7 separate regions of the Homo sapiens genome follow, and all the other regions are reported to be linked to region 5. The links are microRNA targets in miRTarBase. Many come from high-throughput screens and were not tested one by one. Region 5 holds a microRNA gene; each other region holds the end of a gene's coding sequence.

Evidence for each region. The annotated mature microRNA hsa-miR-6875-3p reads AUUCUUCCUGCCCUGGCUCCAU and lies in region 5 at 1,848-1,869, shown strand. An mRNA with a match to its seed (bases 2 to 7 or 8) in the 3' UTR can be bound and repressed. Matches are read on the target gene's strand: a 7mer-m8 pairs with bases 2 to 8, a 7mer-A1 pairs with bases 2 to 7 and ends in A, and an 8mer does both.
Region 1: miRTarBase lists MOB3B as a target of hsa-miR-6875-3p. Seed matches in the 3' UTR shown: 8mer at 3,461-3,468, 7mer-m8 at 1,370-1,376, 7mer-A1 at 1,240-1,246 and 7mer-m8 at 4-10.
Region 2: miRTarBase lists RBX1 as a target of hsa-miR-6875-3p. Seed matches in the 3' UTR shown: 7mer-m8 at 705-711.
Region 3: the mRNA of RETSAT is a reported target of hsa-miR-6875-3p. The part of its 3' UTR that is shown has no 7-base or 8-base seed match.
Region 4: miRTarBase lists NCKAP1L as a target of hsa-miR-6875-3p. Seed matches in the 3' UTR shown: 7mer-m8 at 3,525-3,531.
Region 6: the mRNA of ARID2 is a reported target of hsa-miR-6875-3p. Seed matches in the 3' UTR shown: 7mer-A1 at 3,874-3,880 and 7mer-A1 at 2,977-2,983.
Region 7: miRTarBase lists FAM98B as a target of hsa-miR-6875-3p. Seed matches in the 3' UTR shown: 7mer-A1 at 1,939-1,945.

Annotation. Positions count from the first base shown.
Region 1 is chr9:27,327,101-27,331,334 of GRCh38, forward strand. It overlaps MOB3B (MOB kinase activator 3B), which reads right to left. Exons shown (of 4, transcript NM_024761.5): 4 at 1-3,516. The coding sequence ends at 3,487. Among named protein-coding and RNA genes, the nearest start is that of EQTN, 32 kb to the left of the region's middle.
Region 2 is chr22:40,972,207-40,976,440 of GRCh38, forward strand. RBX1 (ring-box 1) reads left to right here. Exons shown (of 5, transcript NM_014248.4): 5 at 270-1,103. The coding sequence ends at 282. Among named protein-coding and RNA genes, the nearest start is that of RBX1, 23 kb to the left of the region's middle.
Region 3 is chr2:85,339,449-85,343,645 of GRCh38, forward strand. RETSAT (retinol saturase) reads right to left here. Exons shown (of 11, transcript NM_017750.4): 10 at 4,191-4,197; 11 at 2,507-3,933. The coding sequence ends at 3,794. It also overlaps the pseudogene PEBP1P2. Among named protein-coding and RNA genes, the nearest start is that of RETSAT, 13 kb to the right of the region's middle.
Region 4 is chr12:54,542,130-54,546,363 of GRCh38, reverse strand. NCKAP1L (NCK associated protein 1 like) reads right to left here. Exons shown (of 31, transcript NM_005337.5): 31 at 1-3,789. The coding sequence ends at 3,679. Among named protein-coding and RNA genes, the nearest start is that of PDE1B, 5.4 kb to the left of the region's middle.
Region 5 is chr7:100,866,233-100,870,466 of GRCh38, forward strand. MIR6875 (microRNA 6875) reads left to right here and starts at 1,804; the gene lies at 1,804-1,875. SLC12A9 (solute carrier family 12 member 9) reads left to right here. Exons shown (of 14, transcript NM_020246.4): 14 at 1-778. The coding sequence ends at 373. It overlaps TRIP6 (thyroid hormone receptor interactor 6), which reads left to right and starts at 1,155. Exons shown (of 9, transcript NM_003302.3): 1 at 1,155-1,374; 2 at 1,629-1,756; 3 at 1,876-2,001; 4 at 2,263-2,634; 5 at 4,138-4,231. The coding sequence starts at 1,266. RefSeq lists silencers at 803-892, 1,253-1,402 and an enhancer at 1,843-1,942.
Region 6 is chr12:45,904,795-45,909,019 of GRCh38, reverse strand. ARID2 (AT-rich interaction domain 2) reads right to left here. Exons shown (of 21, transcript NM_152641.4): 21 at 983-4,086. The coding sequence ends at 3,942. Among named protein-coding and RNA genes, the nearest start is that of SCAF11, 84 kb to the left of the region's middle.
Region 7 is chr15:38,483,876-38,488,109 of GRCh38, reverse strand. It overlaps FAM98B (family with sequence similarity 98 member B), which reads right to left. Exons shown (of 8, transcript NM_173611.4): 8 at 400-3,855. The coding sequence ends at 3,451. RASGRP1 (RAS guanyl releasing protein 1) reads left to right here. Exons shown (of 17, transcript NM_005739.4): 17 at 1-7. Among named protein-coding and RNA genes, the nearest start is that of FAM98B, 32 kb to the right of the region's middle.

The DNA of each region.
Region 1 (4,234 bases), not on the chromosome of region 5:
TCCTTCTTCCCCTCCCTCCTGTTATATGGAAAGGGATGAATGCTTTGCTAGTGCTATATCATCTGACTGCAATGCTTATAATATTTTGGGGATCCTGGGCCTCCTTGAGAACATTAAGGGATGAATGTACGTATGCACAGCCTCACACTCTATAAATGTATGTGTCCTGAATTTCAGAGCTTAATAATGAATTATGGAACTTGATAATGATTGGATCAGGCAGACAACACCTGATCAGTCCTAATATCAGAAAAGAGACAAGTAGACATTATGTGCTTCCTGAGGTGAGGCAGTAGTAAGGAAACAACATCACACATGTAGCAGTCTTGGGAAAAAAAATGTAACCTGTATCTCGTAATGAGGAAACAATCAGTAAAAAAGTCTAGATTGTGGGACATTCCACAAACTTGCCTGAACTCTTTAATAATGTCAGTGTCATGAAAGACACACCACACACACACACACTGCACATCATACACAAACACCACCCCACCACCCACCACTCAGACACACACAAAAGGGCAACTCTAATCAATTAAAGGAAACAAAAGAGAATGACAACTACATATAACGTATAATTCTTGATTGGATCCTGGATTTAAAAATAAACAGCTATAAAGGATATTTTGGGGACAACTGGAGAATTTTGAATATGGATCATATATTAGATTTATGCAGTATCAGTGTTCAGTTTCATGGGCGTGAAAATATTGCAGATTTATAGGACAATGCTCTTATTAAAAGAAAGAATATGATGAAGTATTTTACATTTTCATGATGTCTGCAACTTATTTTCAGAAGGTTCAAGAATAAGAATGTGTATTTACAGTGAGAAAGAAAATGTGAGGCAGGTGCGGTGGTACATGCCATAGTCCTGGCTACTCAGGAGGCTAAGGTTGAAGCTCACTTGAGGCAAGGGGTTCAAGGCCAGCTTGGGTAAAATAGGGAGAGACCCCTTCTCTTAAAAAAAAAAAAGGAAGAAAAGAAAACAAGGCAAAACATTAACAACTGATGCACTAAAGGACATAAGGGTACTCACTATAATCTTTCAACTTTGAAACTTTTACTTTAAAATTTCCCAAAATTAAAATGAAAGCAGAAAAAGAAGGAGAGTAGGACAGGTTAGGAAGAAGAAGGAGGGTTGTCAGTCTCTGACCCAGAGGGCTGAAGCTCCATTTATAACAGAGATGAACAGTTAGATGCAGTCAAGCAGAGGAGATAAAAATTGACTGCAGAGATTTTCTTCAGAATGTGCCAAAGTTCTGTGGGAACAGGAATATTCTGTGATTAAAAAAAAAAAAAGGGTAGTTTGCCAGAATTTACCCTAGAAGAGTTCATTAGTGCAATTAACAATATAAGCAGGAGGAAATTCTTCCAAGAAGCTTAAAAAGATTTGGATTTTTAAATTGAGTGGAAATTTCATATGCACAGTTAATAAAAAATAACCTTAAAAAGAATGAATAACAAAGGTCTCCAGATTCCAGCCTCCTGCTCGATTATGCACTGCTGAAATGCAGGAACATATTCAACTTTTTAATGTAAAAATCCTGTGGCGTTCCATGATGCACAGCTACAGAGTTCCTCCAGGGCATGGGCTCCGTAGTTACCTCTCTGTGCCACTGTGCTGCATTCCCATCTGGTAACTGTGTATTGCAGAGGCTGGGACTTAGGGGCTCTTGTTTCTGTTCTCTGGATCTCTGTGATGGTCAGATATTCTTTTGGCCAAAAGAGATGTAGGGAAAAAACTTTGCCTATCTTGTCCTCTCAAAGTTACTTAGGAAGGGGGACAAAAGTATGTTTATTGTTGACCAGGGCACAGCAACATGGTGAGGTAGCAGCAATTGGATTCCGTGAGATGACCTTTACGAGACACAAAGCAAGGTTCAGGCTGCTTGGTTAGGTCAACAGAGAATGCCACTGTACCCACAGAGACAGCCCTTTCTTAGCTTGGACAAAGATTTCATGATTCTAGTCTTTTGTGGCAGCCACAGAGGGCTTTAACACATTATGATTGATAAAACAAAATCAGAGTCATTTAGTTATTCTTTAATCATTATTACTTTAAAATACACTAATACATTCTTATCTACTTCCCTCCACCGACAAATATTTTGCTAAATTAAAAGGATCACTGGAAGTATTATGACCCCCCTCGTCACAGGTGGTCAGAACCACCACAGTTTTGTGAATGAATCAGAGAAGGCAACATTTCATCAACGAAAACTCATTTAGGTTTCAAAAGGCAGGATGTAGTACAGAATGCATTATTCTGACTGTCTTCTGGAATAGAAAAATTGGAAAGGATGAAAGAAGGAAGTTAGCTCCAGCTCCACTGTTACCTTGGCAACCGTGGCCCAATCACAGGGGCAGAAATTAATTTTGTGCCGTAACATAACGTGGCAGAGGAGTGGGGAGCGTGGAGTGGGGAGAGAATGACGGCTGGGTTTAAATGCTCAGAAGGCTAGTGGGGAGGGTTACAAGTCAGCCGTCTGGGTGTTAAATCTACACGTACCAAATAACCAATTGTACTTTTTTCACTGAAATGTTAGTATTATGTAGAGACAGCCACGACTCCCTGTCTTTAATAAAGAACAAACACTGCAGTAATCATGCCCAACGCTCCCGCTGATCATTCTTAGTTATTTAGGACTTTTATTTCTCTCTTCTGGGAAACAGGAAAGAATATCTTCCACTGAAGAGACAAGGAATGATGGTGGTTATAAAAAATACATTCTGATCAGGTGAACTGGTAACTTGTCAGCTTTACGCTAGTAACCAGTCTCTTCCCTGCAGTTAGAACGTGAAGACCCTGTTTGGGGCAGAGACAAGCCACCCCATGGAGTGTCCCTGATAAAACTATTTATTAGGGAAATGCTATGGACGCCTCGGCAGGGAGAGTAGGGAGGTGCAGGGGATGGGTAGGGGTTCAGGTGTCTCAGAGCTCCACAGCCCTGCACAGTGTTAAACCACAGATCAGAGCAGGAGCTTTTAGAGACCTGAAAGGAAGGCTTATTGCATAAAAACTTGCTGCACATCCAGAGGTCCAAAATTCACCCGGCACTTAAAAAACCAATCACAGAGAAGTCGGCCAGCTGACAAGACAGATAAGTGGAAAAATACGAACACGCATCTCAGTCTCAAAACCTGAATTCCAGTAAAGCTTAGGCGGCAGGTCACAGGCAGAACTGTGCCATGTGTGGAAGTGCAGAGGCTTCCTCGTGGACAATTCCCCAGCCAGAACGGTCAAGGGGCTGGTCCTTCTTTCACGTTGTGGTCTGCCTCGTCCACAGGTCTGGGCTAGCAGCACTCAGAAGGTTAAGAGCACACAAAGTGAGTGGGGAATGTCTCTCAGGAGTCACTGCTTGCCTCCACCTCTGCTGTTCCTGGGAGTAGGTGTGTCATTTCAGCCAGGGTGGTCCACCTCCTGCCCGCTCAGGGCACCAGGAGGAAACAGCTTTCCTTTCTTCCAAAGGGTGAGGTGGAGCATTAGTGACACATCCTGCTCGTCATTTCTTTCTGGAAAGCAAGGGGAAAAGGATGGTTAGGAGAAACTATAAGCAGAGCAACGATTTGGTGAAGGATCCTGAAAATGCTCTTGGAATCTCGAGAGCCTGTAAATGAAAGCTTGCAAGCATGGTCCATGAATAAGGCTTAGCATGAGGGTATGTTCCATCTGTTTGTTCTGCAGAATTTTTTTTTTCCATTAAGGCACTGTTTAAAAATTTGACTCATGTATCAAAATTCAGGTTGCTTGCTTGCTTTTTCTGAGAAATTGCAAGATTTGGAGCTTCTGAACAACTGGAGTTGAAGAATGGCTGTCCTCTTCAGCAGAAGAATTTGCTCTCCAGTTTGCCCCAGTCCTTGCCACTCCCACCTGACTTCCCAGCAGGAGCCATGTAGCACTTATGAACTGATACAGTAATTGGATTTGGACTGCTAGTTTTCTTCGAGTAGGGAAAGATTTAAGTTTCAATCAAAGATGGAAAAATAAAGGATAAGTGGGTATAAGTCAAGAAAAGCAGGAAGGAGGACATTTTTAAAAATAGAAATGAATAATACACCAAAGTGTCTGACATGCGTCACCTGCCTGGCTCTTGTGGGTATTTATAGATCCCGAATAGCCATCCTTTCTCTACCCCTGGGGCTCCGCACAGGTTGAGTCCCATGCCTATGGTCCGCTGCTACCACATCCTGCGCCTGCCCCTCTTCATTTGTCAAATTGCCACTCATTTTT
Region 2 (4,234 bases), not on the chromosome of region 5:
AGCTACTGGCACCTGTCAGGTGGGCATGGTTGAGTCAGAGGGAGAGCCTGTCCCTAAGAGGGGGCAGTAGGCAAGAAGTCCTGTAAGATGGGGAGGGGAAAGGGGAATCACAGCGACAGCCAAGCTAGTGTCAGTGTCGTCACCTAATCCTGGAGCACACTGTGATCACTTAGGTTCTAACTAAAGTTGCTTATGTGTTTAAGCAGGTTTTATGTCTCAAACAGGAAATTATCTTGGAATTAATCAGAGTAATTTACTTTGTCTTTCAGGTATGGGCACTAGGAAAAGACTTCTTCCATCAAGCTTAATTGTTTTGTTATTCATTTAATGACTTTCCCTGCTGTTACCTAATTACAAATTGGATGGAACTGTGTTTTTTTCTGCTTTGTTTTTTCAGTTTGCTGTTTCTGTAGCCATATTGTATTCTGTGTCAAATAAAGTCCAGTTGGATTCTGGAACGGATGCTCTCTCTTGTGTATGTGAACAAAGTGAACATAAATGAAGAGTCTCCCCTTCCAAGGCTGAAAACTCAGCTTTTGAAAGTGAAATGTTTGTTCATCGGGGCCAGAGCAGGGTTGTCCTCTGAGCGCATCACTTAGTGACGAGGAATCCAACAGCTCAAGGCAGAGTGTGGATCACCGGCTCCCGAAAACAGCAGTCAGCCCTTCTTTCTCCTGTGTGACAGCAGTGGGCAGCTGAAAGAGGGAAGAATGTGGGATTCAGTCATCAAACCCAGTTCTGAGTCCTGGTTCCACAGCTTGGGTACTGATGGCAATCTTGGCCAAGTTGTCTCTCTACTCTGAACTTTCCTCCTCTGTACTGTGGGCTTCTGAGGACTAAGTGGCATCATGTGGGCACAGAGAGAAGCTTTGTAAAATGTAAAACCGCTATACAAATGTGACCTTTGGTTGTGTATGACAGCAGTCCCCAACCTTTTTGCCACCAGGGATTGGTTTCATGGAAGACGATTTTTCCATGGACCGGGGGTGGGGCGGGGGTGTGCTTGGGGATGGTTTTGGAACTGTTCCACCTGAGATCATGAGGCAGTAGATGGACCGCGCAACCTAGATCCCTCACATGCACGGTTCGCCAATAGGGTTGAAGCTCCTATGAGAATCTAACGCTGCCGCTGATGTGACAGGCAGAGCTCAGGCGGTAATGCTCGGTCACCACCCTGCTCACCTCTTGCTGTACAGCCGGGTTCCTAGCAGGCCATGGACTGGCATCCACTCCGCAGCTCAAGGGTTAGGGAAGCCTGGTGTATGACATGTTGCTTTCTCTTCTTAGCTTAGAAAAATAAAGATATATATAATCTTGGCTGGCAAAGGGACAATTTAAGAACTCAAGTTAAAAATTGATATTGGCTGGGTATGGTGGCTCATGCCTATAATCAGGCGATTACAAGGTGAGGAGTTTGAGATCAGCCTGACCAACATGGTGAAACCCCGTCTCTACTAAAAATAAAAAAATTAGCCAGGCGTGGTGGTGTGCGCCTGTAATCTGAGCTACTCAGGAGGCTGAGGAGGAGAATCCCTTGAACCTGGGAGGCGGAGGTTGCAGTCAGCCGAGATCGCGCCATTGCACTCCAGCCTGGGCAACAAGAGCGAAACTCCGTCTCAAAGAAAAAAAAAAAAATCTTGGGAGATGGAAAGAATTGTCAGTTCTAATACTAATTCAATGGTTAATAATATAGACTTTTTAACTGAGAAGCAACATAGTTTGTTGCAGTGGTTCTCAAAGTATCATCTGAGGATTCCTGACAAGGGGGTACCTGAAACCCTTTCAGGGGGTTCATGAACCGCAAGTCTATGTGAAAGTTTTTCTTTATATTCAACCAAAGCAGCATATCTAATGAAGACACCGACTTAAGAATCCAGTGTCTTCTATTAAATCAGATGTAAAAGACATTAGCAAAAATACAAAAACAATGCTAGTCTCACTTTTTTTGTTTAAAAAAATAATTTTAATAAAAATATGCTCATAAGTGATGGGTTTTTATTCTTTTCAGTCATTTTTTTAAATTTCTGGGCTTTTTTTTTGTGGGGGGCGGGATTTGAGACATGGTCTTGCTCTGTCCCCAAGGCTGGAGTGCAGTGGTGAGATGACAGCTCACTGCAGCCCCAACCTGCTGAGTTCAAGTGATCTTCCAGCCTCAGCCTCCTAAGTAGCTGGGATTACATGCATGCACCACCATACCCAGCTAATTTTTTTTTTTTTTTTGAAAGTCTCGCTCTTGTCGCCCAGGCTGGAGTGCATTGGCACCATCTTAGCTCACTGCAACCTCCTTCTCTCGGGTTCAAGCGATTCTCCTGCCTCAGCCTCCCGAGGAGCTGGGATTACAGGTGCATGCCACCACGCCTGGCTAATTTTTGTATTTTTATTAGCAACGAGGTTTCGCCATGTTGGCCAGGCTAGCCTCAAACTCCTGACCTCAATCCACTCGCCTCGGCCTCCCAAAGTGCTGGGATTACAGATGTGAGCCACCCCGCCAGGCCCCACACTGAGCTAATTTTTAAATTTTGTGTAGCGTCTTGGCCGGGCATGGTAGCTCACACCTGTAATCCCAGCACTTTGGGAGGCCGAGGCGGGCGGATCACGAGGTCAGGAGATCGAGACCATCCTGGCTAACACGGTGAAACCCCGTCTCTACTAAAAATGCAAAAAATTAGCCGGGCGTGGTGGCGGGCGCCTGTAGTCCCAGCTGCTCGGGAGGCTGAGGCAGGAGAATGGCGTGAACCCGGGAGGCGGAGCTTGCAGTGAGCCGAGATCGTGCCACTGCACTCCAGCCTGGGCGACAGAGCGAGACTCCGTCTCAAAAAAAAAAAAAAAAAGAACTTCGGCCAGGCGCAGTGGCTCACGCCTGTAATCCCAGCACTTTGGGAGGCCGAGGTGGGTGGATCACAAGGTCAGGAGATCGAGACCATCCTGGCCAACATGGTGAAACCCCGTCTCTACTAAAATACAAAAAAATTAGCCGGGCATGGTGGTAGTCCCAGCTACTTGGGAGGCTGAGGCAGGGGAATCGCTTGAACCCGGGAGGTGGAGATTGCAGTGAGCCGAGATCGCACCACTGCACTCCAGCCTGGAGACAGAGTGAGACTCTGTCTCAAAAAAAAAAAAAAAAAAAAAAAAAAAAACACTTTAAAGTCTAACCTGGAACAAAACTGGCTCCCCCACTAAACTCACTAAACTACCACAGTACCTATTTTGTAGCAAGCACTCAAATGGAGGCAGCTGCTACTGTTCCTATTTGTATCATTTTGGGACTACCATCCTCAGCAGAAATTCCTTCTTTTAAACCCTTTCCAGGCAGCATTCAGACTGCATAAATACTTTCATTAATGAAGAACACATTGCTTTTTGCACAGATGACACATTACATATTTGCAGAATTCTGCTTGGGTTTTGATCAGAATTCTTTGTGTAAAGTACAGAAATCCAGCTTCTGCTTGGGCAAAAGGGAAATTTCTTGGAGGGCTATAGAGGTCTGCAATGCAACAGAAGAAAGGGCTGGAGACGCAGCTGGATCTAAGACTGAAGAGAAACAGGGAATCCATGCGGCTGGGATTCTCACTGCTTCTCTTTTTTATTTTTTTTATTTTTATTTTTGGAGACAGAGTTTTGCTCTGTCACCCAGGCTGGAGTCCAGTGGCGTGATCTCAGCTCACTGCAACCTGCACCTCCCAGGTTCAAGTGATTCTCCTGCCTCAACCTCCCGTGTGCCACCACGCCCGGCTAATTTTTGTATTTTTAGTAGAGGCGGGGTTTCACCATGTTAGCCGGGCTGTTCTCGAACTCCTGACCTCAGGCGATCTGCCCACCTCGGCCTCACAAAGTGCTGGGATTACAGGCGTGAGCCACCGCACCCGGCCCTCACTTCTTCTCTTTCACAGAGACCAGCTTCAGACATGACAGGAAATCTGTGGATGCCAAAGACTCTGCCACCTTTCCCACAGCTTCTGCCACAGGCAAGGGACCAACTCCAAGTTCTTTCCTTAAAAAATGAATTGGCTGGGCGCGGTGGCTCACGCCTGTAATCCCAACGCTTTGGGAGGCCAAGGTGAGAGGATCGCTTGAGCCCAGGAGTTTGAGACCAGCCTGGCAAATATGGCGAAACCTCGTCTCTACTAAAAAATATAAAAATTAGCTGGACATGGTGGTGCTCACCTATAGGTTGCAGTAAGCCAAGATCACGCCACTGCACTCCAGCCTGGGCGACAGAGCAAAACTCTGT
Region 3 (4,197 bases), not on the chromosome of region 5:
CAGCTAGTTACATATATTCTGACATAGTCCCCCCATAATGGCTTTTAGTGACACATGTGCTGATAGAATTCTAAACCTCTAGAATTCCCCTGCTGGTGATGCTGGTGTCTTCTTTTGTGCTTGACTGTACAGGGTAAACTGATGCAGAATGCTGCAAGTGTGATGAGAGCTAGAACGCTGTGAAAACTCTTGCTAGGAAGGTTGGGCTCGGTGTGACTTGCTCCAGTAGGAATCCTGGGTAGAGATTTTTAGCTGCAATTAAACGGTACATCCAGAGCCAAGGGTGACTCTCAACTCAGGTAGTTCTACAGGTCAGGTGTGAATTTACCAAATCTCCCAATTTGTTTATTTGTTTTGTTTTGTTTTGTTTTTTTAGAGGAGGGTCTCGTTCTGTCACTCTGGCTGGAGTGCAGTGATCACAGCTCACTGCAGCCTCAAACTCCTGGGTTCAAACAATCATCCCACCTCAGCCTCCCAAAATACTGGGATTACAGACATGAGCCATTGTATTTAGCCAAATCTCCCAATTTAGAAACTCCTCTGTAAAGGGTTTGGGTCTGAGCTATATGTTTGGTCTTTTTTGTTTGTTTTGTTTTGAGACGGGGTCCCACTCTCTTGCTCAGGCTGGAGTGCAGTGTCACAATCTTGGCTCACTGCAACCTCCACCTCCCGGGCTCAAGTGATCCTCCCACCTCAGCCTCCTGAATAGCTGGGACTACAGGGGCACACCACCATGCCCAGCTAATTTTTCTGGGGGTGGGGTGGGGACTTTCTATAGAGACAGGGTCTTGCCATGTTGCTCAGACTGGTCTTGAACTCCTGAGCTCAAGCAATCTACCTGCCTTGGCCTCCCAGAGTGCTGGGATTACAGGCATGAGCCAAAGCACCCAGCCCTGAGCTGTATGGTACTTCAAACTGCCAACACGCCAGCCCCGGACACTCTGATTGGTATTCTTTTAATTCATCAGACTCCATGTGCAATAAATGACTGAGTGTTGAAACTGTTCTTTTTTGTTTGCCCAGTCGGTAGATGGCCACTTTTTGTAACTTTTTTTTTCATTCAGGTTTCTATTTTTATTCAACTATAAGCAAACAGCACAATTAATGCAATGTTCAGCAACTCCAGACCAGCTTTTCTTACTCCCGTGAAGAATGATCAGTTTAACAAACACCGATCTAAGGTTTCCTCCCAAGCTGTCAGCGAGCGCTGCTGCCGGTCTAGATGGCCATGTCCCAACAACAGCAGCGCCACTCTCCCTCCTGCTTCTTCCAGGATTGCTCTTTAAAGGGACCAGAGCGACATACTGATGCCTATTGAGGCATCTGAGATGCACCGTGTTGGGGGTTAGCCTCAATGCCAGCCTCTGGTTGTCTAGGTGAGTGACATCACCATAAAAACACATTGTGTACCATTCTGGACTCAGGATCACAAAGGCAGAGGCAACCAATCTTTTTTTTTTTAAAACCTTCCTTAAAGATTCTTTGATGCTTTGCTCTATCACTGTAGACCTGGTTTTTTCCCCCTAGTTTTTTCTTTTTTACATTCTGGGTTGCTATTTTCAGATTAACAATTTGATGACCCCATCACAGTACCAAAATATCCCCCAAAATGAAGTTCAAATTTGATCAAAACATAAATCAGAGTGAGTGAGTAAAATTATAAAGGCCAGGCAGCAGGAAAAGTCACCCTCAACCACCATCTGACTGGTCAGGTCTCACCTGTGCCAAGGGGGGCAGGAAGAGGAGAAACCTATTATACATGCAACACTGAACTGGGGAACATGGCTTGGGGCCTCCAGAACAGTTCAGGTCCCCAAGCTAACCCACTAGTTCCCAGAGAGTTGCTCGTACAGTTTGGGCACATAGTCGTCCCACTCAGCCTGGTAACACGTGCCAGCCACCGGGGCCCCGAGCTCGTACTTTTTACGGAAGGACACCACCTCAAATTTGCCACGGTGGTCTCCAGATCGGTTGCTGAGGATGGGCTCGTCACACTTTAGTGGCCTGTCCTGCTCATAAACCAGCCAGACATAGCGGTGGAGACCTGTGCCCTTGGGAGGCCCCGAGCCCACATAATCGGAGAGGAGTGTGTCACTGCTGATGTCATTGCCCTTCATGTTGACCACCAGGAAATGATGCCATTCTCTGTATTTGGGATCCTTCCTGCTGGGAGCATCAGGGTCTGTCAGGACCAAGGTGTAGAGCTTCCCTGAATCAAGACCATCCCACTAAATGCTGGTGGGTCTATTCTTAACCTGGGTGGGCGTCAGCACTTTGCCCAGCTCGTCCACCACCGCCCGGGCGTAGGTGACATGCAGCAGGTGCTGTGACCGCTCGTCCATTTCTCGCAGGCTCAAGGGCCCGGACCACTTGCTGAGGTCCACCGGCATGGCAAGGCCAAGCAGAGCATGCAGCCGGGAGTGCCGCGGTAGGCCAGGTGCGGGCGGCAACAGCGACATGGAGAGCTCAGCACACTGGCCTGGGAAGGCGCAGACCCCACTTTTTGTAACTTTATAATTACTTAATTTTATTTTTTTAAAGCTTATTTTGGTGTTATTCAGTATATAGTGTTTTACTGAGCTTCTGCAAATGCCATCACAATAATAGTTTTGTTTTCTTGAACAAAAAACCAAAATAAATTTCAAATGTTAAAGCAATGGAATCAATAAATTTATTAATGTTACATTAACACGAACTACAAAGAGACCTTTCGTATGTCTGATACCAAAGACATAACTGAAAAGTCATTTTTCCAAACCTTGAGCTTGCATTCACCTACCTGTCTAACCCTCACATGTGCTAATTAACTGCAAATGCCATTTCTGGGCTTCACACACATTCCGTGGCTTTCCCTTTTCTGATGTGACTTCCCTCCCTTACCCCACACCTCCCTGCACTGTCCCCTGCTGTGCCCTTGGCTGGAATGCCCTGCAGCCTGCTTCAGCCCAGCAAAGTATTCATCTTACCAGTCCATGCCCTGACTCCTGATGTCACCCTTCCCTGCATCACCCTTCCCTGTGTATTTGGTGGATAAGGCTTGATTGAGGCTCAGGTACTGAGTCCCTGCTGGCACATTGAGAACCAGCTGCCACCCCGATGATAAGGAAGACAGACCCGGGACTTCCATATGAATTGGATATGATCATCTGACATGCACCCTACTAACTGATGGATCCTGCTGTTACCCCAAAGCTCCAGAACCACACTGGCCAGACACAGGCATTTCCTGTCCCCTGAAGAGCCACTGAACCCAGCACAAAAGAGATCTAGAGCTCTCCAAACCTATGGAATGGCAACCAAAACCACGCCCAGGTTTTGAGTTAAGCCTCATTAGTCTCCCTTTTCCCTTGACAGTGTAGAACTGTGCAGCGTAGCACTAAATGAATGAGAGCAGAAGCCTCAGGACAGAACTGAACCCACCAGGTTGAGCTGACAACACTGCCAGGGGTTCTATCCACAGATGGAATATTCGCTTTGATCACTGAGTTAGGAGGCATGGGTGAGGGATGCAGAGCGCCGCTCGTCATGAGACATCAAGCTATCCAAGTCAATATCCTATTAGTAGGGATGGCATGTTATAAAAGGCGTAAAGATCTCACCTGCCCCAGCTGGAAGCAGTGATTCCATTGCCCCAGATTCGGAATTGTGATTTAAACTAGGCCTCTCTTCAGGCATCAGAACCAAATTAGAGTGCTTTATACGTGCAAGGAACTAATGCAGAAAGACATTATGGGTAAGTCAAGGGAGATGCCCCAGCCATTGGGCAAATTCCTCTGACTCCTCCCTGATGGAACTAATTCTTTTTCTTCTGTGCCCGGATCCTAGAATCAAGATTCTTAAGGTCTGAGTACAAGTTCCGCTTCAGGATGGCGCTGCTGCACAGCAGGGCACCTTGCAGGGCCCCGACCAGTCCACAGGTGAAGATATCCTGGCCTAGGAGGCAAGAGCAGAGGCCCCTGAGCGTGCACCCAGGCAGGCCCAGGGGAGGGTGGGGCCTTGGTGCTCTTCCCTCCACATGAGGGCCACCCAGAGCTGGCTCCAATCAGACAGGGGCCACAGCCTGCCCAGGCAGCCCTGCTCAGGGGATGGGAGGCTGCAGGGGACAGCAGGGCCTGAGGGCAGGAACAGAGGACGTTGGGCGACAGGGGCCCAGGGTCTCAGGTCCTGACAACATGGGGCAGTGAGTATACCTGTCAG
Region 4 (4,234 bases), not on the chromosome of region 5:
TTGTGAGACAGGATCTTGCTCTGTCACCCAGACTGGAGTGCAATGGCATCATCTTCGCTCACTGCAACCTCTGCCTCCCGGACTCAAGCGATCCTCCCCACCTCAGCCTTCCAAGTAGCTAGGACTACAGGCAGGAACTACTACGCCCAGCTAATTTTCGTATTTTTTTGTAGAGACGGAGTTCGCCATGTTGACCAGGCTGGTCTTAACCTCCTTAGCTCAAGAGATCCACTGGCCTCAGCCTCCCAAAGTGTTGGGATTACAGACAACAGCCACCATGCCCAGCTAATTTTTTGTATTTTTGGAGAGACAGGGTTTCACTGTGTTGCCCAGAGTGGTCTCAAACTCCTGAGTTCAAGCGATCCGCCTGCCTCCCAAAGTGCTGGGATTACAGGGGTGAGCCACCACACCCAGTTCCTTCTGCACTTTGAAGCTGGCCCACCTGCCAACTGGATTGAACACCATGGCAGGGGAGGCAGTGTTTCTACTGTCCAAACAAAAGGGGGCACCTATGCAAGTATCTTGCCCCAGGCCTTGTGGGAGGCATAATTCCATCTCATTGCTGCAAGCAAGTTAATGGAGATGTTAATAAAAACACTACATTAATGAAAATGCTGAGGCTAGAACCTATTCTGTGCCTGTAAGACAAAACAATTGGGGTGAGATTTCTGATATCCATTCTTTAGTTCCTTTGGGCCTAAGTAAAGCAAACTTACAACCTGGGACACAACTTATTTTTTCCCAGGTTGTAAGAGGACAGAGACCCTCCTGGTAAAGGAAGCAAATTGCCTGAAATGCTGATGGGTCCTGTTACTTCTCTGTCCCTTCACCTCTGGACATTCACTTTTTGCTTCCGGTAGTAAAGGCCATCATGTCCTCACCTTCTCCAATTTGCTCCTTCTAAGGTCTCTGGATTCTAAAACCCAAGTCTTCCCTTGTGAAGAGGCAGACCGGGCAAGTAGAAAAGGTCTAGGACTGAACATCAGACTTGGGTCCCAGTTCTAGTTCTACTGCTAAACATGTGACCTTCATTAAGTCATTTAATATTTCTAAATCTGTTTTCTGACCTGAAATAGGAAAGCCTTCCCTGGCTACCTTGCAGAATTGCTATAAGGATGTGAAAGCACTTTGAAAAAGTATAAGTGGTAGAGAAATATGTGTGTATAATTATATGTTTACAAAAAGATATATCAAATGACAAAATTTTAGAAATAGAGAATATATCTGTGTTACCAGGAGCTAGAGATGGGGAAGGGGGTTGTGGGAGGAGAAAATTGCTATAAAATTGCTATAAAAGAGCAATGCGAGGGATCCTTGTGGTGATGGAACTGTTCTGTATCTTTTTTTAAATTATTATTTATTTTTTGAGACAGAGTCTCGCTCTGTCACTCAGCCTGGAATGCTGTGGCAGGATCTTAGCTTACTGCAACCTCCGCCTCCCGGGATCAAGTTATTCTGCTGCCTCAGCCTCCTGAGTAGTGGGACTACAGGCATGCACCACCACGCCCGGCTAGTTTTGGTATTTTTAGTAGAGACGGTGTTTCACTATATTGGCCAGGCTGCTCTCAAACCCCTGACCTCAGGTGATCCACCTGCCTTGGCCTCCCAAAGTGCTGGGATTACAGGCGTGAGCCACTGCGCCCGGCCTGTTCTGTATGTTGACTGCAGTGGCAGATACACAAACCTACACATGATAAAGCTGTATAGAAATAGATAACACACACACGTGCACACACAGAGAGAAATGAACATAAGCAAAACTGGGGAAGGAAATCTGAACAAGATCAGTAGATTATATCAATGTCAGTTATCCTGGTTGTGGCAGTGTACTACAGTTTTGCTAGATGTTAGCATTCAGGGAAACTGTGTAAAGGAAAATAGAATTTCTCTGTATGATTTCTTACAAGTGCAGGTGGATTAAGTATCTCAATAAAATTTTCAGTTTTAAAAAAAGGCATTCTGTCTACCCTCCATCCCCCTGCAGCAACTTGTCTTGCTGTCCTCTTAAGCAGTTCTATATGCAGATGCAGATGGAGGAGGGATCTCTATCCCCTCAAGCAGAAAAATATAAACATATAGAGTAGTTGTTCAGATACTTCTGAGCCTCCTCTTCCTCATCAACTTTACTCTCAGTCTCATAAGCCTGACACTGAATCACCCTTTAGAACATAAGCCCTTCCCATAGCAAGGAAGGAGGATTTGCTGATGCACGAAGCAGGATTCTCTATCGCTTCCACCCTAAAGAGCAGACAACTGTTGCTAAGAAAAATCTGTATGTTGATTATGGGTGCCAAGTTAAGAAAGTATTGACTAAGCCTGGGTCTCAAGAAATAAAAAGCAAACACATGTACAAAACCCCAAAACAGCTATCAAATAGGCTTCAGGAAGGCTGAATCGTTTTTGCTGAAAACCGACAACTGCTTCCCTTTCATCATGAAAGTATGGACATGACCCTAATTAACCAACTAGCTAATTATATTTGTCAATTCCAACCACTCTAGACCTGTGACATATATGATCTGTTTCTCCACTTCTCCCTGGCAGTGGATTCACAGAAGTGATGCATGGGGGCCACTATTTCCTGCCAAGGAGTTAAGTAAACCTAGTTTAGTGCTATCTTGAAAGCCCCCAGGCTCTGTGACGCTTGAAATTCTAATTAGCGCAGAAAAGGGCTAAGTTGAAACAGCTTGTACTCCCTCAAGGATACCCACTCTCAGGGCCATACAACCTAATGAGGTCTGTGAAATTTAAGATCCAGAAGAGAAATCCCTTCCTGGAGCAACAGCTATACCCAGGCTGACAAAAGGATTTGGGGTTAAATTAGTCCCTCCCAATAAAAGGCAGAGTACCCCCAAATGGTACAGGAGGGAAAACCCACCTAAGTCTGGGCCAATCAGTTGTCATGTAACCTAGAATTGACGGAGACTAACTGACCCTCTGCTCTGGGTTGTGGAGATATCAAAGCAGGAGGGGTTAAAGCAAGAGAGAACTTGTAACAAACAATGTAGTAGAGTAGGTGGGCAGTGAACATCTCTGAAGGGCACTTCCTCCTTGCCCCAGTAGGAAACGCAGTCAAGCTGGGGGCAAAGGAAGAGACCCAATGACCCCTCGAAGAGCCCCACAAAGGAAAAGAGGGGCTCCTTTGCTGCTACTCTGCAGTAGGAGCAGGTTGAATGTTTGCTGAACACATTTGAAAAAGGAAGAGAGAAGATAATGGTCCTAATGAATGTGCAGGAGACAATAGCAGCTCCAGTGGGAGGATTATAAGCTCATTATGATTTAATATGATGATTGATCATCTCTGCCCGCCAGCATTATCCTAAGAATAGTGATGAAGGTCGGAGAGGCCCATGCCTGTCAGAGCTCAAGCTCAAGTCACCAGAAGATAGAAAATATACTTGTACGTTACTCCTTTTTTCATTGTAAAATTCACACATGTGGCCCCACGCCCTAACTTTTTCCATAAGCTGTCCTCCATGCTCCCAGCCTGCCTCACTGCTCTACGATTTCTCAGCCCTGGATTGTTCTTCCACAGATCTGCTCATCAACTCTGGCTCCTGACCCTCTCTCCTTAGTGACCCCACCCCATTCCCACCCCCTGCGAAAGTGACCACAGCTTCCACTATGGCAAGGGTTTAGGAAGGTCCAAAGGGCTCTTCAGTGGGTACTGGCAGGCATTCAGTTTAGGTGGAAGGCCCGAGACACCTCCCGATAGGCATTTCGAAGCAGGACATAAGGGAAACAGGACTCCAGCATGTCCAGGGTCAGGAAGGATGACTCCTCCACCACCTGAAAGAGATGGGGCCAAGAGATGAGAACCTCAGGTAGGGCATTTGTCTGTGATACCCTGTTCCTTTTGCATAGTTCCCAGGCCCTCTGAGGCCCTGAGAGTTACAAGTGAACAGGGTTCCAAATCACACCCCCCTCTTCCCTCACTTGGTTTGGCTGCAGGAAGGCAATGTGGCATCTTCAGCTCCATTATCATTGACCCTGACCCCCTCATCAGGACTATGTGAAGGGCACAGAAGCAGACAGCAGGAGAGAACCACTTTCCCAGTGCAGCAAAACCCATTCTCTCCCATTCTGGATGCTAAATCACATGTGGGTGGGCAGCACACAGATGCAGGTAAAGATGTATAAAAGTGCTAATTACAAAGCTTTGCAGCAAGAGAAACAAACACCACTGCAGGCCACGGAAGGGGGCCTGGAATCCACATGGGTCCTCTTGTGTTGG
Region 5 (4,234 bases):
ACTGAGGATCCGGGCTGAGGTGCAGGAGGTGGTGTGGGGCGAGGGGGCCGGGGCTGGGGAACCCGAGGCGGAGGAGGAAGGGGACTTTGTGAACAGTGGGCGGGGAGACGCAGAGGCAGAGGCCCTGGCACGCAGCGCCAACGCCCTGGTTCGGGCCCAGCAGGGGCGCGGCACAGGAGGAGGGCCGGGTGGGCCGGAGGGTGGGGATGCTGAGGGCCCCATCACAGCCCTCACCTTCCTGTACTTGCCTCGGCCGCCAGCCGATCCCGCCCGATACCCCCGCTACCTGGCGCTACTGGAGACTCTAACCCGAGACCTGGGCCCCACGCTGCTGGTTCATGGGGTCACTCCAGTCACCTGCACTGATCTGTGATGCCCCTGCCTCCAGGGCTAGGTAGAGAGGGCCCAGGCAGGCGGCCTATCCTGATCCTTGGAGGAGGAGGAAGAGGAGGCCACTGTGGCCCGTGGCCCTGCCCTTGGGACGTGGAGCCCAGGGGAGGTTTGAAGGGGATCCTGGGCTTGGGCATCACGCCCACCTCCTTTGGCAGAGGGACCCCAGCACACTAACTCTGGGTGGCTGTCCCCACCGTGCAGGGGAGGGAGTCCGCAGCCTCCCTTCACTGGTGCCTTGATGCTAGGGGCCAGGCCTCCTCTGTGACTCTGGGCTACCTCAGTTTCCCCATTTTGGCCAGACTCACCGGCCCACTGGGGTGGTGATGTTTTCGTTCTGTTTTATTTTTCTAACTCTGCTGACCATGAATAAAAGACCAAAACACTACAGGCTGGCTGAGCAGTGCTGGTGGGTAGCTGAGAGGGAGGGGGTGGGAATGGAGAGCTCTGCAGAGGGGTGGAGATCGGAGCCTTCAGCCTCCCGCCGCGAGGCTGCCACGTGCAGGGCTGGGGTGCGGGGCCCGGACGCATCCGTGGACTTGGAGGCTGGCTCGGGCCCGCACCTCCCATCCCCAGCTGCCCGCAACCCCCAGTGACTCGGGATCCCCCGGAGAGCCCTCCCCTCTCGGCAGGAGGGGGCTGACTCAGGGAGAAATGGCAGTTTAGGGCCTAGGGGGCCACGTGACCCTCCCCCAGGAATGTGGTGACGTCATCGGAGGCGTGGTCGTCCCCAAAATTAGGGAGGAAGAGGAAAAAAAAAAGCCAGAAAAAGTTTTCTTTTCTGGAGTCCCAAACGAGGTGCGGGACGGAAGAGGGGGTGAAGGCCAGAGGCTCGGGGCTTCAAGACCGCTGTCTGGAGTCCCCCTTTCCAGGCCATGTCGGGGCCCACCTGGCTGCCCCCGAAGCAGCCGGAGCCCGCCAGAGCCCCTCAGGGGAGGGCGATCCCCCGCGGCACCCCGGGGCCACCACCGGCCCACGGAGCAGGTAAGGCAGCCCTTGTGAGACAGAAGAGCCACCCAGCTGTGGCGCTCACCTCTGTCCTACCGCTCCAGCCTCCCGCCCTGGCTGCTTCCTCCTGCCCCTTCCCCAAGCCGAGGCGGGGGGAACAGCCGCCTGCGCTCTCTTGGGACCCTAGATTTGGGGGAGGAGGTAACGAGAGGCGGAGAGGGTGGCTCCTCAAATATACACCCCTCCTGTCCTCCGCCACCCCACCTTTGATTTCTCTTCCCTCAACCCAGCACTCCAGCCCCACCCCAGGGTCAATTTTTGCCCCCTTCCATCTGAGCAGTGTTACCAGGCCCCAGGGGGACCGGAGGATCGGGGGCCGGCGTGGGTGGGGTCCCATGGAGTACTCCAGCACACGCAGGTGAGACCCGGGATCGTGGGGTGGGACATGTGGGATCCCCCAGAACCGAGTCTGAGGGACCCAGGACAGGAGAAGGCCTATGGTGATTTGCATTCTTCCTGCCCTGGCTCCATCCTCAGGGGCTCCCTGCAGACAGGGGGGGCCTTCGCCCTGGAAGCCTGGACGCCGAGATAGACTTGCTGAGCAGCACGCTGGCCGAGCTGAATGGGGGTCGGGGTCATGCGTCACGGCGACCAGACCGACAGGTGACTCTGCCCCTCCTCCCCGTCAGCACCCTGCCCCCTTCTCTGGACTCTCAGACCCAGCCTGATCGATCCCCCATGTGTGTAATGTGCACCCCAGCATGGAGGAAGCGTGGCTGCAAGTACCAACATGTCAGCCACTTGAGGACGGGACCTTGTCAAATGCAAAAAGCCTGTGCTTCCCCACAGCCAGGGTCATTTCCACAAATGTGGGTCTTGGAGTGGGGTCCTTGCTTACGACTTCTGGCCTGCGTTTCTCCTCAGGCATATGAGCCCCCGCCACCTCCTGCCTACCGCACGGGCTCCCTGAAGCCAAATCCAGCCTCGCCGCTCCCAGCGTCTCCCTATGGGGGCCCCACTCCAGCCTCTTACACTACCGCCAGCACCCCGGCTGGCCCAGCCTTCCCCGTGCAAGTGAAGGTGGCACAGCCAGTGAGGGGCTGCGGCCCACCCAGGCGGGGAGCCTCTCAGGCCTCTGGGCCCCTCCCGGGCCCCCACTTTCCTCTCCCAGGCCGAGGTGAAGTCTGGGGGCCTGGCTATAGGAGCCAGAGAGAGCCAGGGCCAGGGGCCAAAGAGGAAGCTGCTGGGGTCTCTGGCCCTGCAGGAAGAGGAAGAGGAGGCGAGCACGGGCCCCAGGTGAGCCCTGGGGAACTGGGATTTCAGGCCCTACAGACAATGGGACACCGACTGGGTGGGGTGGCTGGTGGTGTTTTAGGGGGCTTTTTTGTTTTTTGAGACAGAGTTTTGCTCTTGTTTGCCCAGGCTGGGGTGCAGTGGTGCCATCTTGGCTCACTGCAACCTCTGCCTCCCGGGTTCAAGTGATTCTCCTGCCTCAGCCTCCTGAATAACTGGATTACAGGCACACGCTGCCACGCTTGGTTAATTTTTGTATTTTTAGTACAGACGGGGTTTCACTAAAACCCCAGTTTGTTGGCCAGGCTGGTCTCGAACTCCCGACCTCAGGTGATCCGCCTGCCTCAGCCTCCCAAAGTGCTGGGATTGCAGGCCTGAGCCACCGCGCCTGGCCAAGGGGCTGGTTTTGGAGCAGAGTCAGAGGTCTGGGACGTGGAATAGGTAAGGGCAGGGCAGTGCGGGGGAGCAGGATAGAACTGCCCATTGGGGCTGAGCGCGGTGGCTCATGCCTGTAATCCCAGCACTTTGGGAGGCTGAGGTGGGTGGATCACCTGAGGTCACGAGTTCGAGACCACACTGACCAACATGGAGAAACCTCGTCTCTACTAAAAATACAAAATTAGCCAGGCATGGTGGCACATGCCTGTAATCCCAGCTACTCGGGAGGTTGAGGCAGGAGAATCACTTGAACCTGGGAGGTGGAGGTTGCGGTGAGCCGAGATCGCACCACTGCTCTCCAACCTGGGCAACAAGAGCAAAACTCTGTCTCAAAAAAAAAAAAAAAAAAAAAAAAGAACTGCCTACGGGCCCCTGGGCTGAGATGTTCTCAGATGAGCTTTCTAGCTGGAACTGCCTGGCCACCTTCAGAGACATTATAGCAGTCCCCAATCTTTTTGGCACCAGGGACCAGTTTTGGGGAAAACAATTTTTCCATGGACTGGGGAGGGGGATGGGAGGGGGTGGGAGGGGGATGGTTTCAGGATGATTCAAGCACATTACATTCATTGTGCACTTTATTTCTGTTATAATAATAATAGAATATATAGTATATATAATTGTTTCGGTATATATTACAATGTATATTACAATGTAATATATACCGAAACAATTATACAATTCACCATCATGTAGGATCAGTGGGAGCCCTGAGCTTGTTTTCCTGCAACTGGACAGTCCCATCTGGGGGTGATGGGAGACAGTGACAGATCATCAGGCATTAGATTCTCATAAGGAGCTTGCAACCTACATCCTTCGAACACACAGTTCACAATAGGGTTCATGCTCCTATGAGAATCTAACGCCGCTGCTGATCTGACAGGAGGTGGAGCTCAGGCGGTAATGCAAGTGATGGGGAGCAGCTGTAAATACAGATGAAGCTTTGCTTGCCCATTGCTCAGCTCCTGCTGTGTGGCCCAGTTCCTAACAGGCCATGGCCTGGCGGCTGAGGGCCCTGGTATTACAGCATCAGGAGCTAGAGTAGGACCGAGCCCGATTCCCACCTTCCAGGTGCCCCTGAGCCAGCCTCCAGAGGATGAGCTGGATAGGCTGACGAAGAAGCTGGTTCACGACATGAACCACCCGCCCAGCGGGGAGTACTTTGGTG
Region 6 (4,225 bases), not on the chromosome of region 5:
TCAGCAAAGTATTAGTGACTAGTTTAAAACAGCACCTTAAATTTTGGAAACAATTTAAATGTCCATCGATATGGGGTCTAGTTAAATATAGTATACCCATACAATGGAAAACTATATTGTATAGCTGTAAGAAGGATGAGAAAGCTATGTACCAATATGGAATAAACTTAAAATATTAAAATTTCAAGAAAGTACGGCATATTATTTATGGTATGACATATTTTTGTGTAAAAAAGAGAAAATATTGAATTCACTTGTATGTAATCAACACCAGAGATGTACTCAAGAAATGTGAACAGTGGTTATCTGGTTGGGGGACACGGGTGGTGAAGCAGATGGGAATGAGGCTTTTCATATAATTTAACTTTTTGATTAAGTTACTTTCTAAAGGCAGTTTATGTTTTAAATAAATGTATACAATGTGGGTTGTATCTCAGACTAAAATCCACAGGAGCCAGGACTTGACTTAATAATAGCCTTTTCTTTTAATATTTAAATGTAGTCTTATTAATCAAAGTAAATGGATCTACTTAAGTATATGCCAGTGTGTCTTAGTGTTTCTTATCCACACACAAGGCAATCCTGGACTTAATTTTTACCAATAGGAAATGAGGCTATATAATTGAAATGAAAGAGTTACAAATACCAGTGTAGTAATGTAATTAGACAGTGGTACTGTCTTCATTTGTTTTGTTGCCTCTGGAGAAGGCTAGTGTAGTTGTCGTATGACTGACTGCTGTATGAGTCTGAGAAGAGTCAAGCAGTATGAAAGTGATCGGCTAAAATTTCCTAATAGATACTGGATTTTGTTCTCATTTAACTTACTATTTGGTAACAGTGACAGTGCCAGGTGTCCCACGTGGTTAACCCCATAGCTCCACTTCTGCTCTTTAGCAGCTTCTGCTTTGCATCATGTTTCCTCTGTTTGGTATTTAACAGCAGTGGTTAAGATCAGGACAGAAGTCACTTATCCAAAACATTCTCATTTTAAAAATCATTTTATTGTCATTTCATGGTTAAAAAAACATACATGACATGACTATAAAGTAATGAGACGAGTTCTCAGGTGTGGGTTGGATTACTGAGTCTCATTAATATATAGTCACAATCCTGACTTGAGCTTGGAAGAAAAATATGCCTTCGCTATATGATTATCAATTTTGTTACTTAAAATTTATTGAGTGCCAACAGAGCACTAGGCACATATATAACACAGAATTATACAGTCTCTATGTTGTAGACTATATTATTTACATAGATTTCTCAAAGATAACATTAAAGCATGTATTTACAGAACTTTAGACAAAAATAACAATACTGTAAATCAGCAAGTTTCTGTCTAGCAAGGAGCACCTTTTCATGAATGAGAGGGTTTTGCAGAACTTATTGTGCAAAAGCACTTTAATTCCATTACACAGCAAGTCCATATTATTATATAGTTCTATAAAGCTATAAGAAGAAAAACCTAAGTGGGAAGCCATGATCAGTTTCATTAGGTCAAACGCATTTAGGAAATTCTCTGCTGAGACTGAAGCTTAAAAGGCTACAGTCATATTTACATATTATAGCAGAAAAGCTAGAACTACAGCATGCAATTCAATGAGGTGGAAGAATGGTGAATATGAAAACCATTTTTCTAAACCTGCAGTTTGTTCTCTTTTCTATTAATTTAATTACCACTGCAGTTTCTGATTTTGAGAAGACATTATCTTTCAAATAAACGTTGTTGCACAAATTTACTTTTTAAAAGAGATTTTTGGATAAGTACGGTGAATAGAAAATTCCCCATATGATGTCAACTACCAGGTGCTTGTAAGTTTGAGGGCTCTGAAGGCCATCCTAGGGATACCCACATGATTTCAGCGGTGTCTGTTGGGCAGTGCCAGTCTTGGAAGGTGGGCCAAGCATAAATTCCACAACCTTATAACTAATATTAGATGAAGTTTCTCAAACATTCCTTTGAGACATGGCAGGACAGCGCCAGGGATCCTCCTTCAGGAAGAAACTAGATTTTACATTGGTACTAATTCAATCAAAATATTTAAAACATTTTTAATATGGAAACTGAGGCTTTTTCACTCTAAGAATCTGCCTCCAAATTCAAGCTGAAGATTTGGATACACTGTGATTCTGAATAAACAGTCAAGAAACACAACATCAAACAATAAAAGCTTTTAGCCAAATGTACAGTATCCAGTAAAAAAAGGCATATTGAGCTTTAACTGCATCAATCATTTGCTGTTCTCTACATTTGCTCTGCATTATAACAAGATGAAAAATAAATACTTGGTTAATCTGCTTATTTCATGCAAATTTGTCATGTAAAGGACCTCTCTTATTTGTTCTCTATTTAATATGTTATCAATCAACATATAATCAAATAGGTAGGTGACCGTTATACCTTGCCTTCAGCTGAATTTAGAATTCTCTCTATATTTTTAAGATGTCTTAAGCATACTCAGAAATGAAGGACTCAAGAAAATGTTCAGTCTTTTATTTAAAAACTATAAACAGTCACCAAAGTAAATAAAGCCATTCTATAACATAAACTGTTAGGTCTATATTTTTTACTGCACATCCTAAGGACACAGCAGAAATGGTGGTTGGGAGGCCTTCCACATTTTTGGATGCTAATAGAACAGGCAATAGGCAGTTATAAATGGATACATTTCACGCTGGGGGAAAAAAGACAATTTAAGGAAGTGAGCAGTTTCTGAGCAGGAATGTGGTACAGTATTAAGAATGGAAGAATAATACAATAAAATTCCACACTATATTAAGATAGAAAAAGTAGTGAAGAAAATATCATACCTGCACATAATGCATATATAACACAGGAGAAAACCTGTATAAAATTCCATGTATTTAAACCAATTTACAAATACAAAAAATTCTGTCCAAGCTCTGAGCTTGTACACGACAAACGTTTACAGTGGATACATGTTAAGGAAAACCAAAAAATACCTTCAAATAGTTTTTCTTCTAAAAAATGACATGAGATATATTATTCCATACTCTTTCAGCCAGCAAAATGAGTTCTACAAGGTGTATAATACAAAAAAAAAAAGAAAAAAAAAAAGAAAAAAGAAAAAAAAATCACAGTTCCACAAAACTGTTTTGACTTTACAGCATCAGTACCTTTGCAGAAGTATTTACACAAATTTAAAGAACATTCATCCACTGCATAGAATATATCACAATTACTTACAATTGACAGGAAAGTCTAGAAAACTTTAGAACCTACCAATAATGCTTCTAGGACACCACAGAATGTATTTCCAGTGGCTGCAGTGGCATGAAAGGTATTCATTCTATTCACAAATATTTACAAGATCTATTCAGACTGGTAAATTTTTATGATAATAAATAAGTGAAAATATATTGGCTCAAGTAAGAAAACCAAGCTACTGATTTCTAAACAAAACACACGATCCATAGCTAGATATTGGTGGCCCCCTCTGAGATCGGGGGTATAGGTGTGCTGAAACTTTTTTAAATTATTCAAACCAGCTTAAACGGTTTTGTAAATATAAAAATGTGCTCCTTTTTGGATATAGATAAAAATATTTAATGCTTCTATTTCATCTGCTCATGTAGGTTTTACAATATTCCATGTATATTCCAATGTGGATGGTACTGAATTCTGATCATACCAGTTTCCATCAGGATTTATCAGATCTGAAACATCCTGCAGATAAGCTGGTTGACAATCCCACAGCAGTTCTTTTTTTTTTTTCCTTTTTCTTTTTAGATTTTTTTAAACAGAGAACAAAGGGATTCACTCAGAGATCAGAATACGAAGCTTCCTCTCAGCATCATGGGAGGAGATAAAATAATTCATTCTATGGTCTTTGTTCCATTAAGACTTGGTGCTTTCTTCAGTAACAGTATGTGAAATGTGGCTGACTTTGAGTCCCCCACTGTGTAAGTGGAATTATTTTTCACTGCAGCATTTCTGAGTCTTTTTCTTGTTCCTTACTCTGAACTGTAAAATTAAGTTCATAAAGGCATTTGGCAAGGGTGGAGGAAGCTTCCATGTTACTAATGGCTAGCACTGATAAGTTATTTTCATGTCTCTTTAACAATCTGCAAAAAAACATATAGAAGATTGTCAGTCTCCAAGGTCACAGCGATGACTCTTTATCATGAATTTTGCAAGTTTAAAAACTAAAATAGAAACAATACATAGCTCCACACCCCGTAAATGTTAATATAGTATTGCAGG
Region 7 (4,234 bases), not on the chromosome of region 5:
CCTACAACACAAATGTCTTGTGTTTCTTCTGCTTCGTGACCCCGTAAACACTTTACCTGAATTTTTCCTATATTCCACAGCTAAGACCACTGCCCTATTCTATTAATCAAATTGAGTTTTCCTGGAAGGAAAGGCAAAGCAGCTATTCAGTTTAAAATTTTCTACATCTTTTTACAACACGAAGAAGTAACACTACAGAAATATTCAATCTCTTTCCATCTTATTCATAACTTACAGTGGTCCCCAAATATTAAGTCTATAAATACTTAACATTAAAGGAGACAGACTTGAGGTTGTCCCTTCTCTGTGGCTTTTAATTCCACAGTTTCATCTAAGCAAACTAGCATGTAAAGAAGAAATCCTTTGAAGCTATGGATAAAATTGGTAACGACAGCTCAATCCAGGTTACAGACCTACTCAGGGCAATTTATTTGTGGTCATGATTATTTAGAATGATCAGACATAGCCACAATTTTCCCTTAATCCCCAGCTAATTTTTGTTTAACCACACCAATGAAGAAAGAGGAAAAATTTCAGTCACTCAAATTCCTCTGTGGAATGCATTCTGGAACATTTAGATGGGGGTGTATTTATCATTTGGGCAATTCATAATACTTCATACAAAGTAATAAAGTCACACTGACAGCCTGATCCTGAAGGCAAGATTAAACTGCCTGCTCACCTTCCCCAATTTTCATCCCCACATTTCTCTAACCTGTGCTCCTTCCAAGGTATAGATAGTATCACTGCTCAGGACATTTTTCTGGTCACAAATTTTTTTTAGGTTGTCATGCCTCCTCTTGTCACAGATACAGGTAATAAGATGTTTTTTATTTAAAATGTTTTCCTTTTTCTGTTTAATGAGGCAAGGTTTCCCTGATCTGCAAAACAAAAGTAAGTTCAAAGAAAACCCTTGTTTCCCTTTTGATGTGTGCTTATGAGTAATAGTGTGGTGATTATGTTATAGACAGAATACATGCTCTTTATACGGTCGAGAGGAAAGATGACTACTTTAGGCAGAAACTCCCAGTAAGATCATGTCTATATTTGCTATTAGGTACCAGGCTGGACAAAAAGAGAAGAAAAAAGGGGAAGGACAATGAGGTAATTAAAAAATGAAATTGAGAACCAGGCAAAAAAGAATGAAAAGGAGGTATCAAAAAAAGTGTTGGATTTTAGGAAGCAGTGGAGTGCCATTCATCATACTCCATGTCGTATTGCACTCAATTTATAAAACATTTTCACACTATGGCCTTTCCCATTAAGGCCCCAAATTTCCTTCCTGCTATTCCAGATACTGCTCAGCAAACTGTTCTACAAAAGAAATTTTTACTGAACAAAGATTATCAGGAAAATCCCACCTTACAGGAAAGAGTAAAATATTAAGAGTCTACCTGATTCAGCTTTTCATTCAATTAAGGTTTATAGGAATGTGTACATAGGAGTGGTTTCAGCTCCAACACGATTCCAGGAGCAAGTGCTAAACTTTGATAGGAAATAAGTGATTGTAGTGAATAACCCAAGCAGCACTCCTATAAAGGTACAAAGAAATCTTATGGAAAATCTAATGAAACTGATAAACTATTGTTTCTGCCATATTTACCATAAACCTTTAGTGGTAAAAAAGTTGAAAGTAGTTGTAAATCTCCTTCATCAGCAACTAATGCTACCAAAAAAGAAGTGAGGCAGAAATGTAAAGGTTTTAAAGAAGATTTTTAAACAACTCTTGAAATATTTTACTCAAGTAGTTTTTTTCTTAAAAGTTTTTAAAAATTATTTTTCAGAGTTCATAGCTACTGATAAAGGTATTTTCTTAATTATGGAAAGCCTTTTTTTCAGCTATCACAAATGAAATTACATCTTTTCATTAAATATAAACACACAAAAAATAAATTTACAAATAACCAAAAAATTTTATATTTTCCTACCTTGAACACATTTCTTCAAAGGGTTAGCTTGAAAAATACATGTCTAAGATTACAGAATATTCAATAGTTACTTTTAGGGTTTTAACATTATTTTAGATTTTACCACAGAGTTTACCAAAAAAATAACAACAAAAAAACCTGCTAAACATCAAATACCACTTGTCCACTGGGAACAATTCAGCTTTCTATCAGTTGAGTTGGTTAGATCACATTAAGTTGTTATGTATAGGTATTGACCAGAAGCCTACAATGAGATACAGATTTTACACTAAGATTGAAAAAATTTATGGTACCAGCTCTTTTTCTCTTAACTTTCTACACTAAGAGAAAAATACATTACTTGGCCTACATCTTAAAGCATTCAAAATAGGCCCTCTGTAAGTTTTTAACAAATTGTATTTGTATTTAGGTCTTTAAGAAACAACCTGAGATGATGGTAAGTGTCTCATTCCTCATTTGACAAATGAGGACAAATCACTCCTTGAGAACTAAGGTCATTTCAATCCATAGCACCCCTGACCTAGTGCCATGATTCAAATTCACAACTCTTGATAGCTAAGACTTTGACTGCTCCAACTAGCAAATCACATATAGCCATTCCCTAACTTTGTGTTTCCCAAATCTAGCTGTGAATCAGAATTACCACAGGATGCCTTAGCCCTACCCTTGATCTACTGAAGCAGAAAATTACTGCCTTAATTCTGTGTGATACAGGTCAGCCTGCCTTTTAATATTTGGATATCTAAAGTGAGAGCATAAATGATGAAGAGACCAGTTTATAGGACTATTTCTCACACCGTCATGTAAAGTTGGTATGTGTCTTTGCTCCATTAAAGTATTTCTGACCTCAATCTTAAACTTTGCTTTGTCAAACAAAATCATGCTGATTTCAAATCCAATTAGAAAATAAGTATGTACAGTAAAAAGTAAACTTGGGCTTCAATTAATGAAACTTTAACAGAAACATGGCTAGAGAGGAATCTCCTCCTATAAGAGAAAAAAATGATTCACAACAACTGCCTACTAAATACAACTGGAAGTGCCTTTCCCTATTTTGTAAAATCGAATGAAAAACCCACAAAACACATCCACAGCAATACAGGTGAGGCAAGGGTCTATATTCCTTTCTATTACAGGTGGGGTCTTTTATATGTCTCAAACCTGAACAAAATACAGGTAACAATCTAAATTCAATCATGACAATAAAATACTTTCCATTTTCCAAGTCTGATGGTAATAAATATTTACATTTTAAAAAATAATTTTTGTTCTTTTTTTTGTTTTTTAAAAAGACACAACATGCTCAAGGGTACACAGAATATGGAAAAAGTCATCACTTCATTTGAGAGATCAACTGGTAATAAAAAACAATGTTCTTACATATTAACCAATTCAAGAGTGGTATCACCAGGGAGTCTAACATGGTGTTTACTTCAAAGATGATATTCAAGTATGTTATTTGGAACACTATTTCTAATGTATCTATAAAGAAGCAAGCACTGCTATCTAATTTTTATAGTTTTTAGTATCTTCTATATCCACCTCCTCCACCACCACCACCACCACCACCACCACCTCCTCCATATGGATCTCCATAGCCTCTTCCACCATAGCCCCCTCTTCCACCATAACCCCCTCTTCCACCATAATCTCCCCTGCCTTGGAAACCTCCTCTACCACCTCCTCCTCCTCCCCCCCACCCTCCTCCCCCTCCCCCACCACCTCCCCAACCTCCTCCTCCACCCCCCCAGCCACCTCTCCCACCCCCACCCCCACCACCTCCTCTACCACCACCTCCACCACCACCACCCCAACCACCCCTTCCACCGCCGCCTTCTTGTCTCTTTTGCCAAGGGGGCATTTCTGGAGGTGGTGGTTCAATTTCATTCGGCCGGCCTCCCCTGTCAGGCACCCTTCCCATCAGCACCTGTGTGAAGAAACATTTTCTTTTAGTTCCTAATATTTCAAAAAAGTTTACATAAAAGTTTCAAGTGATGTTGTTTCTAATAAACAGAAGCCAATATTTAAGGACATGAAAGTACCAGACATGGCAGAACAAATTAATATTAAAAATATTAAGTGTGGAAGGATAAGGAGAAATCTGTTAAAGGATACAAAATCACGGCTAGACAGAAGTAATAAATTCTAGTGTTCTATACCATTGTATGATGACTGTAGTTAATATATAGTTTCAAATAGCTACAAGGAGGATATTGAATGTTTCCAACACAAAGAGATGATAAATGTTTGAGAGGGATATGCCAATCACCCCGTCTGATCACTATACATTGTATGTATCAAAACAT